Linked DNA regions of Homo sapiens: region 1 is linked to region 2. A link means that fine-mapping ties the variant in region 2 to the expression of a gene that starts in the linked region. Tissue or cell type: prefrontal cortex. Region 2 holds a variant in brackets; the other region holds the start of a gene. All regions are shown on one strand. Distances are from middle to middle.

Evidence for each region. PIP is the estimated chance that this variant, and not a neighbour inherited with it, causes the effect.
Region 1: it holds the start of AFF3, and the variant in region 2 is fine-mapped to the expression of AFF3 in prefrontal cortex (BrainSeq, PIP 0.95).

What each region holds. Positions count from the first base shown.
Region 1 is chr2:100,137,619-100,145,770 of GRCh38, forward strand. AFF3 (ALF transcription elongation factor 3) reads right to left here and starts at 4,972. Exons shown (of 25, transcript NM_001386135.1): 1 at 4,866-4,972.
Region 2 is chr2:100,097,080-100,105,079 of GRCh38, forward strand. It overlaps AFF3 (ALF transcription elongation factor 3), which reads right to left. Exons shown (of 25, transcript NM_001386135.1): 4 at 7,323-7,439. The coding sequence starts at 7,375. Among named protein-coding and RNA genes, the nearest start is that of AFF3, 42 kb to the right of the region's middle. The variant T/A (reference allele first, on the strand shown) is at 4,184.

The DNA of each region.
Region 1 (8,152 bases), 41 kb after region 2:
CTGTACAGCCTAGACTCAGGATCGCCCTAAGGGAGTTGGCATGGAAGATTTCAGAGCTGGGCAGACTGGGCGGGGACCTCTCATCTGTGTTTCCTGAGGGTCACCTAGCCTCTTTGAGCCTCCGTTCTCCATAGGTGAAAGGAGTGTATCATATCTGCCTTGCAGGGGTGTTGTGGGACTCAGAAGATGTCCATAACATCTATGCCCAGTGTAGAGTAGGAACTGGGAAATAATATCCATTACTGTGATTTTGTGAGGAGTTCCAGATAACTGCTCAGGTCTTTAAGAGAATTCCTTGGTCTTCATACTCCACTCCCAGCTGTGGAAGCAAAGCAATCAGAATGAGGATGCAGGAAGCATGGGGTGGCCATCTGCCAGTTCTCCCTTTTGTATGCCTATTTCTGCAAACAAACCCACCAACGATTAGATTGCCCATGATAACAAGCCAGCCTCCACTCAGAGCTCACCGTGCAATGACTGTGTGGAAGACATTTGTGATTTTTTTGCTGTCACCACCAACTATCTTCCCTTCCTGTTACCACCGCAGTCTTCCTTCTGGGGATGCCTCACCATGCATAGATGTGGGAGATAGGCCGGAAGTCTAATGGAGGGTCTACCTTTCCTCAAGGGGCAAGCATGTGATCTAAACAGGGGTCATCACTCTCTCCCCTCTTTCTGGGATTTTAAATAAGTGACATCCCAATATGGGGACAATTGAGGTCATATCTGTCACTGTGGCAGCCACATCATGTGGCCCAGACTGTTGCCACATTTCCATTCCTGTGGTTCTTAACGGTGTTCTTACCTTTGCTTGCTGCTCTATTTTAAGTCAATCAGCCCCCAATATTGTTCTGCTAGATTGACATTTTGTTCAGCATAGCCTGATTCAGTTTCTGTCTTTTGCAACAGGAGCACTATCTGATACAACCAGACTCCAAGAGGAAAATAGAAAAAGGGAGCTCATACCACTTAAAAAGATTTCTCTTTACTGTGGTCATCATCCAGGGCTTGGGAGAAAGGTGAAATCTTAAAAGATACCAGTAGGCCGGGTGCAGTGGCTCATGCCTGTAATCCCAGCAGTTTGGGAGGCCAACGGGGGGCGCATCACCTGAGGTCAGGAGTTCGAGACAAGCCTGGCCAATATGGTGAAACCCCATCTCTACTAAAAATACAAAAATTAGCCAGGCGTGACGGTGGGCGCCTGTAATCCCAGCTCCTCAGGAGACTGAGGCAGGAAAATCACTTGAACCCAGGAGGCGGAGGCTGCAGTGAGCCGAAATCATGGCACTGCTCTCCAGCCTGGGTAACAGAGCAAGACTCTGTCTCAAAAAAAAAAAAAAAAAGACACCACTAAATGGGACACAACAACTGAGTTGAAGTTATGCATCATTACATTAGAGAGGATTTGGGGGTAGAATGCCTTTCTGTTTGCCAATTTATCATCAAAGGGGCAAGAGGATGAAGGGCGGAAGGGAAGTGGTGAATATCAACTTATACAACCACCACTCAAACACAAACTCTTTGCATGCTTTTAGGAGAACTTGAAACAATTTCAATTTTCAGGATGGGGAAAAGTAAAAGCCCTATTTGCCCTTTCTCTCTTCATTATCCATGGTCTCCACATTGCTCCTTGGTCCTGAGAAAGCTGCCACAAAGCATTTTACTAGTTATCTGATTGTCATTCCATTTAACATGTCCCCTGGTCTGCTGGCTGATGGTAGTTTAAGCAGGATCTAATTGGTAACATATTGCCGATTGAATTAAGTGCCATATGATAGAGATTTAAACCATGGTAATTTTTCCATAAAGAAAAATCTGTCAACAGGCTATAGGGGAGGAACAGCAATAAATCAAATTGTCGTGTTTATTAGTTATTGCAGGAGTCTAGTTGTCTTGTATTCATTATAACCCCCCATTTTTAGTGCAGATAAAAACTACAAAGAGGAATATCTGTGCAAGATGCTTTTTAATAGGTTTGTATTTGTACACAAACACCTGCTTGTATTTTAATGATGAGAACAATGGTGCCATTTCACTTTGAAAGGAGCATGTATTTTTGGCTGTTTTCTGGATGAAGAATAATGTTTTTAGTTTTTGTCAAAGCTATGTTTTAAAACATTGAGAATCAACTCACTAATAACCAAAAAAAAGGCAAATGAAAGCAGAAATGAGATATGACTTGTTTGTCAGACTTGGAAATACTAAAAGAACAGATAGGATGATTGCACTAAAGGATTTCTAGAACAGTCATTGCAATTTAACTTGTGATATTCAAAAACCGGAAATCAACTAAATTTTCATATATGGGAATGGTTGCACAAATTATGGAACATCAGCTCCAGAGGGTGCAAATGGGTCATTTGAAAGAACAAGTTAAATCATACCTAATGACATGTCATTAAGAACCAACATTATTTATACTTTTCATTTCCATTTAACTTGCCTTTACCGAAGGTGGATTTCAACACGTTTTCCTTACATGACTCGGAAATAATATAACAGCATTTTACGTATGTAGACTCATTGAGCCCTCATAAAATCCTGTGAACTCTGTAGGACAGGACATTACACCCACTTCACAGAAAAAGATGTGGAAGTGCAGAAGATAAAAGTTATTTATGGAAGGGTCCATAGCTGTCAACCTTGATAGGCAAGACATCAGGTCCTTCCTCTGAGTAGTGGTGTAGAAAAAATGGTTGGAATTTAGAAACCAGCATCCAGCTCCTCACCATGCCTTCAGCTTTCTCTGTGACTTTGAACTTGTTTCTTAAACTCTCTGAAACTGGACGTCCTCACTGGTCACGTTTTGTTACTACTTGCTTTGTATTCTGGGTGTGATGGGTGGGGGATTGGGACACAGAATCTGGAGATGGTCAGATCCCAACGCTGCTATTTCCCTGCTCTGCACTCTTAGGCTACCTACCAATCTCTCCTCTAAAATAAGCATAATTGCAATGGCTCAGATACAATAACAAAATGTGTGTAAAATGCCGAGCACCACGTCTCACACCTGAGAGGCACTGAATGCATGTTATATACTATCATTTGGATGTCACCGTTCCATGTGCCTATTTCCTGGTTTGCTGTACAAGATGTGTATGAGTACATGTCATCAAGCCCACAGAGCTCCAGAACATGTTCCTCTCACAAGCAGGCCTCATAGGGAGGGGTGTTCTGTGCTGTTCCTCTTTCCTGCTCACTACTTGTCTGTAGCTACAGTGTAAGGACTGTAATGTCACTGCTCTGGCCTTAAGTGTCACCCCCCAAACCCATTTTACACACACCACCTCCCACCTTTCACCTTTCCCAAACTCTTACCATGTCCCTTCAAGTTTGATGGCTTAATTGTACAAAAGGTAGTGATGATGATGATGATGATGATGACAATGATAACAGCTGCTAATACTTACTGAGCCCTTTCAATGTTCCAGGCACTTGTCTAAGCACTTTACATGTATTAGCTTATTTAATTCTTAAGAGGAAGGGATTACTATCTACTATTGTACTTGTGTTACAGATGTGGGAACTCCGATGCAGAGATGTATAGTGACTTGCCTAAAACCATCATGTTAGAGTGGGAATTTAAACCTTGAAATCTGGAAAATAAGCAATGTATATATTTTTCTATTTTCTAAATGCAAATCAAATATACATATGCATAACACCACTAAACACTAAGTGCAGTTACGCCTAGAACAAGGGAATAGCAGTTGACAGAAACACAACCAAAACTAAGAATATTAAATGTCTGTATTACTTTCACTGTAATCACTTCACTTCAACAGTGAGATGGGATAGCCCTAGGTAAAGGAAGGTGCTCTTGTAGTTAGAACATTCTTAAATTTTGCACCAAGGAACACATGCTTTTAATAATGGCAGAGACAACATTTTTTGATGGATTATTTAGTTTGTACGATCAACATTCAAAGAATGAGTTTACCACCACTTTGTTATTGTAAACACTTGACCTTTAGCTACCTGAATGATCCCCTCTTTGAATAAAAGGAATTATGAAACACATGTGTAGACATATTTCATTTTTATATATGTGAGACTCGAATAGCAAGGAAATCACATATTAGGAAAAAAACCCCTTTGTCTTGCTATTAGTTCTCTTTGGTTTCAAAAATCTGGTCACTGTGTATATTGCATTATATCATATGTGTGTGTACATATATATACACACATAAACACACATACACACAATGTCATGTGTATAAATACATGATGTGTTTATGCACATACACAGACACACACACACAAATACACACATATACAATGTTCCATCCAAGAAATACAAATATAGTGCTGTTAGCCCCTAACAGTGAGGAGGTCATTATTCCAAGTCATTTCTGCAGAAGTGACGGTGGCCTTAGGTGGAACTGCCCATGATCTCTCCTTGCAAGCTCACTCACTGGGGCCATTGACTGGGATCCAGTCTGTGGCCATGTCATGGTTTCTATTTTTGAGGTTATAGCTAATGAGCAACATGAGGTTAAGACACACTTTTCATAAGGCCCCAGCCAGCATCATAAATATGTGTGTGAGCATGTTCACACTCAGGTTATGTCTTCTTTATGTGCACCCTCTACCACACACACACACACACATGCACACGCACACACACTGACGGCTTCAGTGACCAACTTTGGTCACATCCCATCTCTTCCTTCTCAATCCCTCTGGCTGTTCACCAGGGCCTGGACCATCTCGGTGAGGCTGACCAAGAATGCTCCCCCTGCCCTGACCAGCGGAGCATGGGCACAGCTACTTAGAGCGCCACCCTTCAGGACACAAAGTCGGGGCTACCTCTCTTCCAGGCAAGGCATCCTAGAGGGCCCGCACACCCTCCAGTTTGATCTTACCTCTCAGCTCCCGTTCCTTTTCTTTCTCTCCCCAGTAAGTCGTTGAACGTCTTTCTTCTGAGGCTGAGCGTGGAGCTCTCTTCTCGCTGGCGAGCTTTCTGAATGGCACTTTCTGTACAAACAGGAAGAGCATGTGTGGTCACAACCCAAGTGTGCAGGTGTTGATAGAGGATGTGAAAGTGTGGAGGCGAGTGACTAAACCAGATACCCAACCGGCCAACTCTCACTTGTGGCAGGGCCTGGTCTACCAGAAGGCTGGAAGCAGGAACCTGGACTCTACTCTGGGGAGACCAACTGACAAAAGCAGAGGATGGTGGCCCTGGAGGCCAAGGGAGAAGGTCTCTTTGACTCCTGTGCTTTCTAACCCTATGCAGACCCATAAAAGAATCCCAGGAACATTTTGGAATCTCTTAGATATATGATTATCAAGAATGTTGATTTCAATGGGCTGCTTAACTTGTCCAAAGCTCTGCTGGTTTCCCAGGCTGTCTGGGCCTCCAAGAGATCAGGACCAAAGGCTCATCCTGCATTGGAACTGTGACAAGTCTTCCAGACCTTTCTAGAACAAAGCTACACCAGGAAAGAAGAGTCTTAGGCAAGGAATCAGATGTCCTAAGGCTGCTCTACATGACCTACATGATGGGTGTTACCTCCTCATCTCCCATTCAGTCAACCCACGGGCACTGGACTTCCTGCCCGACACCCTTCCCTCTCCCCATTCATGCCTGGAATTATTTTCACTAATGACACCAGGGATTCACTAATGGATGCTTTTTCAGTTCCTGTCCTATTTGTCTCCACTGGCAGTGTTTGACTTCCCTGTAGTGTTGACCATTTCTTTCCTCCCAGAACTTCTGCCTGGGCCGCCATGACTCCATACTCTCCTGGTTTTTGTCAGGCGGTCTCTCACACTGGCAGGCTTCCATTCTTTGGTCTTAATTTTCGCCCTCCTGCAAGCTCCACTCTCCGCCTCATGGTTCCTGTTCTCCATGGGTGGCCTCTTCCCAGCTCCAGATGGAACTTGCCAAGCCCACATCCATAGCATCACACATTTCTGCTGTTCTCCTGGAACATCCCCCAGCACCTCCCGTCAGACTCGCCACAATGAAACCCTGCTCTGTCCTCTACCCCACTCATTACTTACCATGTGGCCTGTGAATTCCCTCCTGCCTTGTCCCAGCTTGCTCCTCAGGTCTCTACCCCCTTCTGAGTTTACCACCTTCTGATCTCTCACTTTGCCTCTGCTAATCTGGCTTCTTCAGGTTTGACCCTCCATTATCCTCATCCAAACAGGCCCGTCCTTATCCTGAGAATGGATACCTAGAAACTTCCCCACCCAGTCCTATCCCAAGCCCTGGGAAATTATCCCAGTATTGTCTGCCTCATGTCCCTGGCAAGGAGAAAACGTTTCTTTATCTTATACCCAAACCAGAAATGGGGAGGCTTCCCACGTTCTTCTCTTTGCTGAATACTCTTCAACCTTCCATCACCAAGCCCTGCCCATTCTACCTCTTCAGTCACTCCTCAGATCCTTCTTCCCGTCCGCATCTCCACAGCCACACCCTCCCTCCATTGCCTCTCATCACTGCCCTAATCCCCAAGGGGTACGTGCACCCAGGGCACACCAGACCGTTCACTGAAGGATGAGAAGAAAGGAATTGAATGTCTATCTACCCACACTTGTCTGGTTTTTGTATTTAATTAAGACTCACATACCATAAAATGAGCCGTTTTAAGATGGGGAATCCTGTGGCATTGAGTACACTCACAATGCTGTGCAGCCACCACCTCCATCGAGTTCCCAGACTTACATCTATTTTTACGTCATGTTTTTAGTGTTTACATTTTGTGTATGTTTCAAGGCATGCAATGTGTGAATACAGTTGTATTGTATATCATTTGTGAATAATCATACATCTGCTCAGAATAGGCGGCAAAGACTTTTTTGCTGAAGAAGATACAAAATTAGAAAAGTGGGGACACGTGACCTCCTAACTCATCTCTCACATGTCAGGCTCTAGAGTGTTTTCCAAACTGCCTCCAAATTTTCTCTGCAAAAGACTACAAAAATGATGACAGTACACTCCCCTCACCCCACGACCAGTCCTTAAACGCTTCAATGGCTCCCTGTCACCCACAGGAAAATCCCAAGGCTCCATCGCTGGGCAGGCGAGATGTTGGATTCAGTGGCCTCTGCCCACTCCCCAATACCATCTCTTGCCATCCTTGATACCACTTCCTTCCTCACCACCCAACAATCCCACCACCACTCATGGTTTCTTGAACTTTCAGGCTGCTTTATGTCACAGCTTTGCACATGCTATTTCCTCTTTCAGGGTGCCTTCACTTCCATTGGCTATCTGGCAGATCCCCATGGATATTAAAAACCCTTCCATCCTGCTCATCTCAAAGCAGAATTCCTCACCTGTGCGGGCTGAAGCCATTGCCTTCATGTTAGATGATACTATGGGCAATTTGATGGTCAGGAGGGTGGGCTCTGCCTCCAGAAAGACCTGGGTTTGGGTTCAGCCTCTATCATTTACTAGCAAGGGTAACTTGGGGATGTTACGTTCAGCTTCCTCGTCTATACGGTACCCACTCATAGAGTGACTGTAGAAATTAAACAACATAGTGTGTGTGCAGGATGTCATAAGTATTCAGTAAGTGGTGGAGATTATCATGATGGTTATTCTGTTTGTTTACCTCACTATTCTGTAAACTGCTTGTAAAATTTATAAATTTCATACCAAGGAGAGCTACTACTTCTAAGGCAGAATGTCTTCATTTTAATTAAAAAGTTGGCCAGGATTGGTGGCTCATGCCTGTAAGCCCAGTGCTTTGGGAGGCTGAGGCAGGAGGATTGCTCGAGGCCAGGAGTTCGAGACCAGTCTAGGCAACGTAGTGAGACCTTGTCTGCACAAAAAAATTAAAAATTTTTAAAAAATAGCTAGGTGGTTAGACGTGGTGGCTCATGCCTGTAATCTCAGCACTTTGGGAGGCTGATGTGGGCGGATTGCTTGAGGTCAGGAGTTCGAGATCAGCCTGGCCAACATGGTGAACCTGACCAACATGGTGAAACCCTGACTCTCCTAAAAATATAAAAATTAACCGGGCATGGTGGCGCACACCTGTAATCCCAGCTACTCGGGAAGCTGAGGCAGGAGAACCGCTGGAGCCTGGGAGGCGGAGGTTGCACCGAGCCAAGATCGCGCGGCTGCACTCCTGCCAGGGTGACAGAGTGAGACTCTGTCTCAAAAAAAAAAAAAAAAAGAAAAGCCAGGCGTGGT
Region 2 (8,000 bases):
TCCAGTATCAAGTTAAGCACATAACTCTCTAAATGGAGTTGCTATGTTAAAGTGGTCTCCAAATTACAGTCATTTTTGTTTACCTCCGCTAACAATGAGCCTCCTGGGAAGAAATTATGTGAAGAAGTTTAAGTACCCTCTATGCCTTTCTCCACAGGTGAGTGGGGAAATTGCAGAGGAAAAATACACAAGTGAATACAATTAATGACTTCTGCACTCTTTGATTCCTGCTACCCTGTGAGGGGAATGATCATAGAATTTTGAAGCTGGAAGGAATCTCGGAGATAGCCTATTGCTGCCGCTCTGCCTACCCAGGAATGTCTTTCTACAAAGTCAGGTAATTGTTACCCTTTGAGACAGCCCACATCACATCACTGTTAAATGCTCTCACACCCACTGATCTTACTCGTGCCCTTGAGCAACCCAGAACAACTCTATTCCCACTTCCCAGCTAAATGCCTTCAAACACTTAAGGCCCCTATCATATCCCGGGTGGTAGTTTCCTTAGATTGAACCCATTTAGTTCCTTGGATTGGGTGGTGTCCTCTTACTCTGATATAAACACTGTGTATTTTGTTTCCAGTGAAACTAAATTATGATTAGCCTGACATAATTTAATGAGACCCACAGTGCCAAATGAAGTCATTCGATGTAATGGTTGGTAATGCAATACATTCTCAGTGAAACATAAAAGATTATGTAATGGTTAATAGATCTACATATGTGAGTAGTACCACCGTAAGTAAGAGCATATTTGTCTGCTGGACTATGATGCACGACTAAGAAAAGCTACCAACCTCTACTCAAAACCGTCCCAGGGTCCTGTTGCCAGGGACAGAACGCTGCACCGCATGGACTGCTGAATCTGACCTTATGCGGCCTTTCTGTATTCTTCCTTGTTTATGAAAAAGAGACATTTTTAAGAAAGCAAAGGGTATAGAAGAGCTACATTTGGCATTCAGAGCAATTGACACTTTTATTACTTAACATCACAACCTTATGAGGTAGGCCAGTCTAAGTGCTGTCATTTTATAAGTGATTAAACCAAGACTGAGAATAGGAAATGAGAAAAATCATGAGCTGCCCAGGGCCAAACAGAAAGCAAGGTTGGGGCCAGCTGAATTCAGAAACCTCAATTAAATTCCAAGACAAAAGGGAACAGCCAACATTGAAAATAAGTTTTATGGATTTCACTTTGAAATAAAACAACAACAAAAAAATTATGTTACCATTAAATGATATTAAAATCGTCTTTTATGGGGCCTCGATTTTGCCACCAAGGCTTTATTCCCAAAAATTAAAATAAAAAAAAAATCAAACAGGCAAATCTATTCCAGGTTAAAAATTCCACTTACACACAAAATCTTGCATTCCATATTGAGAGGTTTTTTTTTCTTAATTTGCCTATTAATCTGTATTAAGCCAAAGGTCTTCGTTCAAGTTGCTCAAGTGTCATTGATTAGACCCATTGTAGTTAACAAGGACATTCTCCCAAAATAGATTCTTAGCATTTTAAAACCCTCCTACATTTTCACAAAAGAGAATCTGGAACACAGGAAGGAATCATTTCCCCACACACAATACTCATCTTCATCGTCATCCAGATACATTTGGTTAAAAACCTATCCACACATTAAGGTGCACACTCCCTGGGTTCCTCCTCCCTGGTATCCTCTGGGGCCCCAGCCCAGCTGGAGTCCCCAAGTTCTCGGCGCCCTGAACTAACCAGTCTCTCCACCCAGCTTTCTCCAAAACACACCCCACACGAGGGCTGAGCTCCTCCACAGCGGATGCAACACTCCACTGCTTCCCATCGAGGCCCCCTGCCTCCTCCAGGCTGATGAGCAGCCCCTTCCCCACTGCTGCCCACAGCCCTAGCCCTGGAAGCCTCTCTTCTGAGAAGGCTTTGCCTCCTCGTACCTGCCGAGGCCCCTCCAGGCCCATGCTGAGGGCCAATGAGAGCCACGCAGTCAACTACACGGTGACCTTCGGCCAGTGTGAGTACACGCAGCTCTGCAGAGCTGCTGTCTACCAATCAGCTCCAGGACACCTGGGGCTCAGACAGGTGCACTCTCCTTCTGCCCTTTCTTTGTACTCTGTTTTGACCCATAAGGACTGACCAAAAGGATAGGAATAGGCCTTAAAATGTTTGCTTTACTGCAGCTGGAGGAAAGGGTTAGAGGCACCTGAAGGTCAAGATCAGGGATCTGTAGCATTTTCTGGCACTATGAAGTAAAGTCTAAAAAGGCCTGGAGGAAGCCGCCCACTGGCCTGCGCATGCCCCCTGGCAGTTGATTTGAAGACAAGCAAAAGCATCAGCGGGCACTACTAGGCAGCATCCTTAGGGAGACTAAACTGCTAGTGCCTCTGCATCCCTCCCTGCCTGTGTTAGCCTACCTTCACCAAACAAGATCCACACTTTATTCCCTCCATGTTTCTATTCACAGTCTTCCCACCACGTGGTTTTCCTCCTTTCCATTTCCTCCTGAAATTCTACTCCAGGACCCATTTCAAATGCCACCCCACCATGAATATCTTACTTTCAACAGGATGTGCCCATGCCCCCTCAAGCAGGCAGTGTCAGCCTTGGATTACAGGTATTTATGGGTATGGCTTATTCTCCTATTAAGTTCCCAAAAAACACACTGTCCTTTGCATCCTGTACAGCAGGGTTTCCTAAACTGCAGGTTTCAGCCTATGAATGGGAAATTCTAAAAAAAAGAAAAAAGAGAAAGAAAGAGGATAGGAAATATCCAAGTGTATCACACATAGTAATAAGCGTTATTTCATGATGCTCTTGTTTCACTTACGTGTATGCATGTTCAAGGGGTGGTGGGTGGCAGTGTTAAACGTGTATTTGTTACTGGGGGTCATGGTCTGAAGCATTTGAAAGTCACTGCCCTGATGGTACCTCTCCTCTGTCTAATATTCTGTGAATGCTTATTGAATTGAACAGGTTGATGAGTATGAAATGATCCATGTATTATAACTTCAAAGGCTCCAACTTAAAGGAATATAAAGAATAATGCCTATCTGAACAAAAGTGTGTGGATTCTGGCTTATATGAAGCTGTGGAGGAATGGGGTGAGTGGTAGGGAAGATCAGAATATTTATTATACTGTTGTATGTTGATAGACTTTCTCTCCAATGATTAAAATGTGTTAACATTTAAGGAAGATGAAATACAAGTTCATTTTGGAAAACTTTTCTCATTCACTGAAACTACCTCATGACTACAAAGTTCTGCATCTTTAAAAGAGACAGTATAGGTAATTCCACCATGATGCATAAAATGATCTTTTAGAGACACCATGAAAGCCCTTGTTCAAGTTTTCTTTGCCCAAGATGTCTCCATGTACTCTCAATACCCCCACCCACACCATCTGTCTTCCAAGACTTAGTTCAAAGGCCACCTATTTCATGGAAGCCTTTGTTTTTTAACTCAATTTTTCCTCTTTCCATCCTCCACCCAAGTCCCAAATATGGTCTCTTTTCTGAATCACCAGTGTTGAAAACTTCCTTTTTCATGTGTGTTCTTGTCTTAATTTCCTCACTTGACAATAACACTAATATGTACAACCTACGCCTTACTCATCCTTGCATCTCCCACAGAAACCAGCACAAGGTCTTCTACTTAAGAGATGATCAACAAATATTTGTTAAACGAATTAAATGAAAGCAACAGTTAGCCTGTTAAAAGGGATGGTCATTATTTTAAAGGCCCTGAGGAATGGCTTATATGTCTAGCACCTAATCAAAAGCTGGTGGACCACAGAAGGAAGACCAGGGAGTGGAGGGGGCAGCCTTGTGCCTCTGCATATCTGCTGCCCCTGTAAACTCACGGAATGCCCAACTCTTCAAGACTCTACAGAACAAAGCTACAGTGTTGGGTGCTGAATGAACACCTTAACCTTTTTCCAAGTTCTCCAGTCTTGCTTCAAACCAGAAATTGGAAGTGGAATTAGAGGTGGAAATTAGGGCCATCCTTTTCAACTTTAAGGTATGGCTGAAAAAGTTGAAACAGCCATCTGGATAATTCAGGCTCAAAAAACCCATCCTGAAGAGTAAGTATGGATGTTTCTGAGTGGCAGGAAGAGTGTGCAAGAAGGCAAAGGAGGTAGTTGTGAATTATCAATTGATTGTGTATATTGATTATATTCAACAGAACTGAGCTTTTCCCTTT[T/A]TATTTTCTATAAGGACACTCTCTGTGACTGCAAGAATAAACTAGCTCAGATTCAAAGCCACAGTCACCACTAATAAATTCCAATTTGTTCAATTGGAAAATGATGTCCATCAATTAGAAAAAGTTCTTAGGGATTAAGATTCTCTTTTGCCATTAATCTGTACCTCCTCCTTCCTCCTTCAAAAAAGTTTTTCTATGATCAATCAAAGGAAGAAGTTTTCAATGGTCTTTAAAATGTATATTGCTCTAATACAATAATTCATAATTAACAGGTATACTTTCCTAACTATGGTAGTTTATTTTCAAATTTTTAATTTTAATACCATTTAGGGCTCTCTCTCTTTGTTATTTTAGTAGGACCTTAACTTCCAGTCCATCGAGGTTTTGTTTTGTAATTAATTTCAGAGCTGTCCTTATAAGCTGAGAGATATTTGAAGTACTCTAGAAAATGGCAATTGTCTGACCGGATTTGAAGTCAGATCACTGGGCTTTGAAGCTAATTTCTGGTTGAAATATGGCTGCCCCATTTTTAGATGTGTGACTCTGGGCAGGTTACCCTATCTTCCCATCTTCAATTTTCCTATCTTTAAAATGGAACTAATAACAGTACTTGCTTTATAATTAAATGAGCTAAAACATGTAATGTACCCAGAACAGTGTCTGATAAATAATACGTGTTCAGCAAATGTTAGTTTTAAAAAGTCTGCTGTCATCTGTTTTATGACCTCAGTAAAGTCATTTAACAGTTCAAAGCTTCTATTTCCTCATCTATAAAATGGAACTACTACCACTTACTTACCCTTTCCAGGATTAAGAGATTCAAATAAGAAAACAATGGATATGAAAATATTGGACACACAGAAAGTTCTCAAATATTAGTTATTTTGAACCATCTATAAGCTTAAAAGTAACCATAAACTTAAAAATTTACGTAAACCATAAAACTGAGAACATAGCATCCAAAAATTCATCTGTGAGAAAATGTCTAAACATATTAGAAATGCATACTCAAGCTTGGTTTTTCTTTAACTTATCAGAAACATATAAGCTTTTGTAAAATGTAATTCTACATCTGCAAAACTAGAAACCCTCCCGGTCAAGCCAAACTGTCCTAGTATATTGTGATCAAGAAAGTCTACATGCCTTCATAAGCCAAAACTCGATGCACTGATTAAAATGTGATTGCACGTACATCAACTTTTTAAAAAACGTGTAAGTTTTTGTTTTTTTTAAAGTAATAAATGTACTGCTAATGTAAATTTCAAGTCAATTCAACAGATATTTATTCTGTGACACTGCTCCAGGGTAATTCAGCTGGGAACTAAGGATGCAAAAGGAAACAGAGCTCAGGTTCTGTGCAGGAAGACCCCACAAATTACGCTGATAATCTCAAAATATTACTTATGAAAGTCATAAGGGGGTTCGCTTTGAGTCAGCAAGCAGACAAGCAGCATAAAAATATACCGAAACAGTAAGTTCTTCCCTTTGACTGAAAAACTGCCTTTTAAAAGCAAACAGCATTTTAAAAGTACAGTTGCTATCTGGAAAGCTATTGAATTTGCGCCAGAAACCAACATTTCTAAATGTAAACCTATAAAATAATAGGTATCTGTAAATGAAAGGCTGAAATAACCCCAGGAGCAGCAACACAGTAATTAGCAACTTTTACACAGTCATAACATGTTTCATATTCTTTCTGCCCTGGCTCTTTGAAGTTTCCAGTGCAATACGTAAAAGTTTTATTACATTAGGGCCCGTCCTTGTGTGTTTTACAGGCACCAACATTATGCAGAGCAAGCTGTACTTACTCATCATAGGATCTTTTATAAGAAACCGTTTGATAATGTGCTAGCTTTGTGTCCAGTTTATTTTGTTACACCTGTCTTTAGGAAAATAAAAGTCACTGGAAACCTAAATCACAGAAAATACACACAGATCCACATATCATCTATATGTTATAAATCATAAAGCAGTTTAGCTTTAAAATTGTACATTGCATATTCATGTGCACACCACTTGCAGTTTTAGACACATGTGAACTCTTTACTGAATTAAAGCAAAAGGAAAAAAAAAAAAGCTCAGCTCTACAATAAGCGATTACCAGAGGCAGAACAGAGTGCAGTTAATATGCTTGTTCCAGCAGATGTTCATCCCCGTAAATATTAAACATAACACAAGTTCCTCCAGGAATATGCAGGCAGTAATTTTACCACCTGAATAGTGCTGGTTGGAAACATTTAAGAGATAGTGGGGGGTTGGGGGGAGCAGAGAAAGAAGGGGGAATAAGACAGATACTAAAGCAGCCAATGGGATTTTTAAGACACCCGCAACTGGAATTAAACTGCTTCCAGCGGCGATTTACCTACAGCAGCTCCCCAGTGTGAGATCCCCCGAGAAACGGAACCTGGAGTGCCCCCCGGGCTGCGAGCTGTGAGCGTGGCATAAAGGGATACCCGGGGCGCCCGGGTGGGGTGGGGAGGAGGAGTGCAACTGTGACGAGGTGTGAAGAAAGGGCCCAGAGGAACTGTGAACCCCGAGGAAAGGAGTCTCCCTGGGCTAAGGCCTCTGGAATACCGGCACGGAGAAACACTCGTTTCCTGCCCTGGATGTTCACTTTTCCATCTCGGTGGAAGTGGGTGGGAGAGACAGAAAGGATGCAGCCGAGACCGGGCGCAGGCGGGGAGGCTGGAGCATCCTCTAAGGGCACTTCGCAGCAGCACCAACTCCAGGGGGTCGGTGGTGCCAGCCGGAGGAGGGAGGGGGCGCAGTCGGAGGGAAAGGAAGTGAGAGGAGCAGGGGGCCGACGGGTGGATCCCCAGGCATTAGTGACACAGTCTTCAAATCGCTTCTTTTCCTCCCCACGGCTGCGCTCTGCCCCTGGCTACCTAGATCACCAGTCCCTGGGCTGGGGCGGGCCGCCGCGAGGGAGGGGAACAGGAGAGGGGGAAACAGACGGGCAGGCGGCCACGCATCCCACCCGGGGAGGCAGAAAAGGGCTGGCGAGGCAGGCGCCCCCGACCCACCCCACCCCCACGGCGGCCGGCCGCCCGGAGCCCCCGGCCCAGGTGAGGACGCGCGGGCCGCCGCGGCCGCCCCTCGCCGCTCCCGCCCGCCCGAAGCGGCCGGCACGGGGACTTACCACAGTGACTCGAGGTCCCATTCCTGGAGCAGGGCTAAGTCGAAGCTGTCCATGGTGGGAGGTGTCAGCGTCGCCGCCGCCGCTACCGCCGCCGCCGAGGCTCGGGCCGCCCGCGCGCTGCAACGAAAGGCGCCGCTCAAGGTGCATCCCAGCCGCGCCAGAGCGGCCGCCGCCCGCCCACCGCCCACCCCCAGGTCGGGGCTCCCGACGCCCCCCGCCCCCGACTCCGGGCCGGCCGGGCTGGCTGCAGCGGCCGGCGCACTCACCCGCTCCCCGGCTTGCGCGCAGGCACACTCAAGAGAGAGCAGCGAGCTCGCCGCGCCGCCGCCGCCCCCCGCCCCCGGCCCTGCGCCCGCCCCTCCTCCCCTCCCTCGCGGCGGCCCGGCCCGCTGCTGCAGCCGCCGCCGCCGCCGCCGCCGCCGCGGTGCTCTGCGCCCGCCCGCCCGCCTCTTTCTCCTCCGGGAGGCGCGTGTGCGCGGGCGAGGCCGAGGCGCGCGCGCACCGTGAGCCCCGCGCCGCGCCCGCCCCGCGCGCCCCTGTACTCCCCGCGCCGCTCCTCGGGGTCCCGCGGCGCTCGCAGGCCGCGCCGCCCTGCCGCCCCTCTCTCGTGGCTTTTACGGCCCGCCCGCCCCTCAGCAGCCCTGGGGTGCCCGGGGCGGCCCTGCAAGCGGGAGAGAG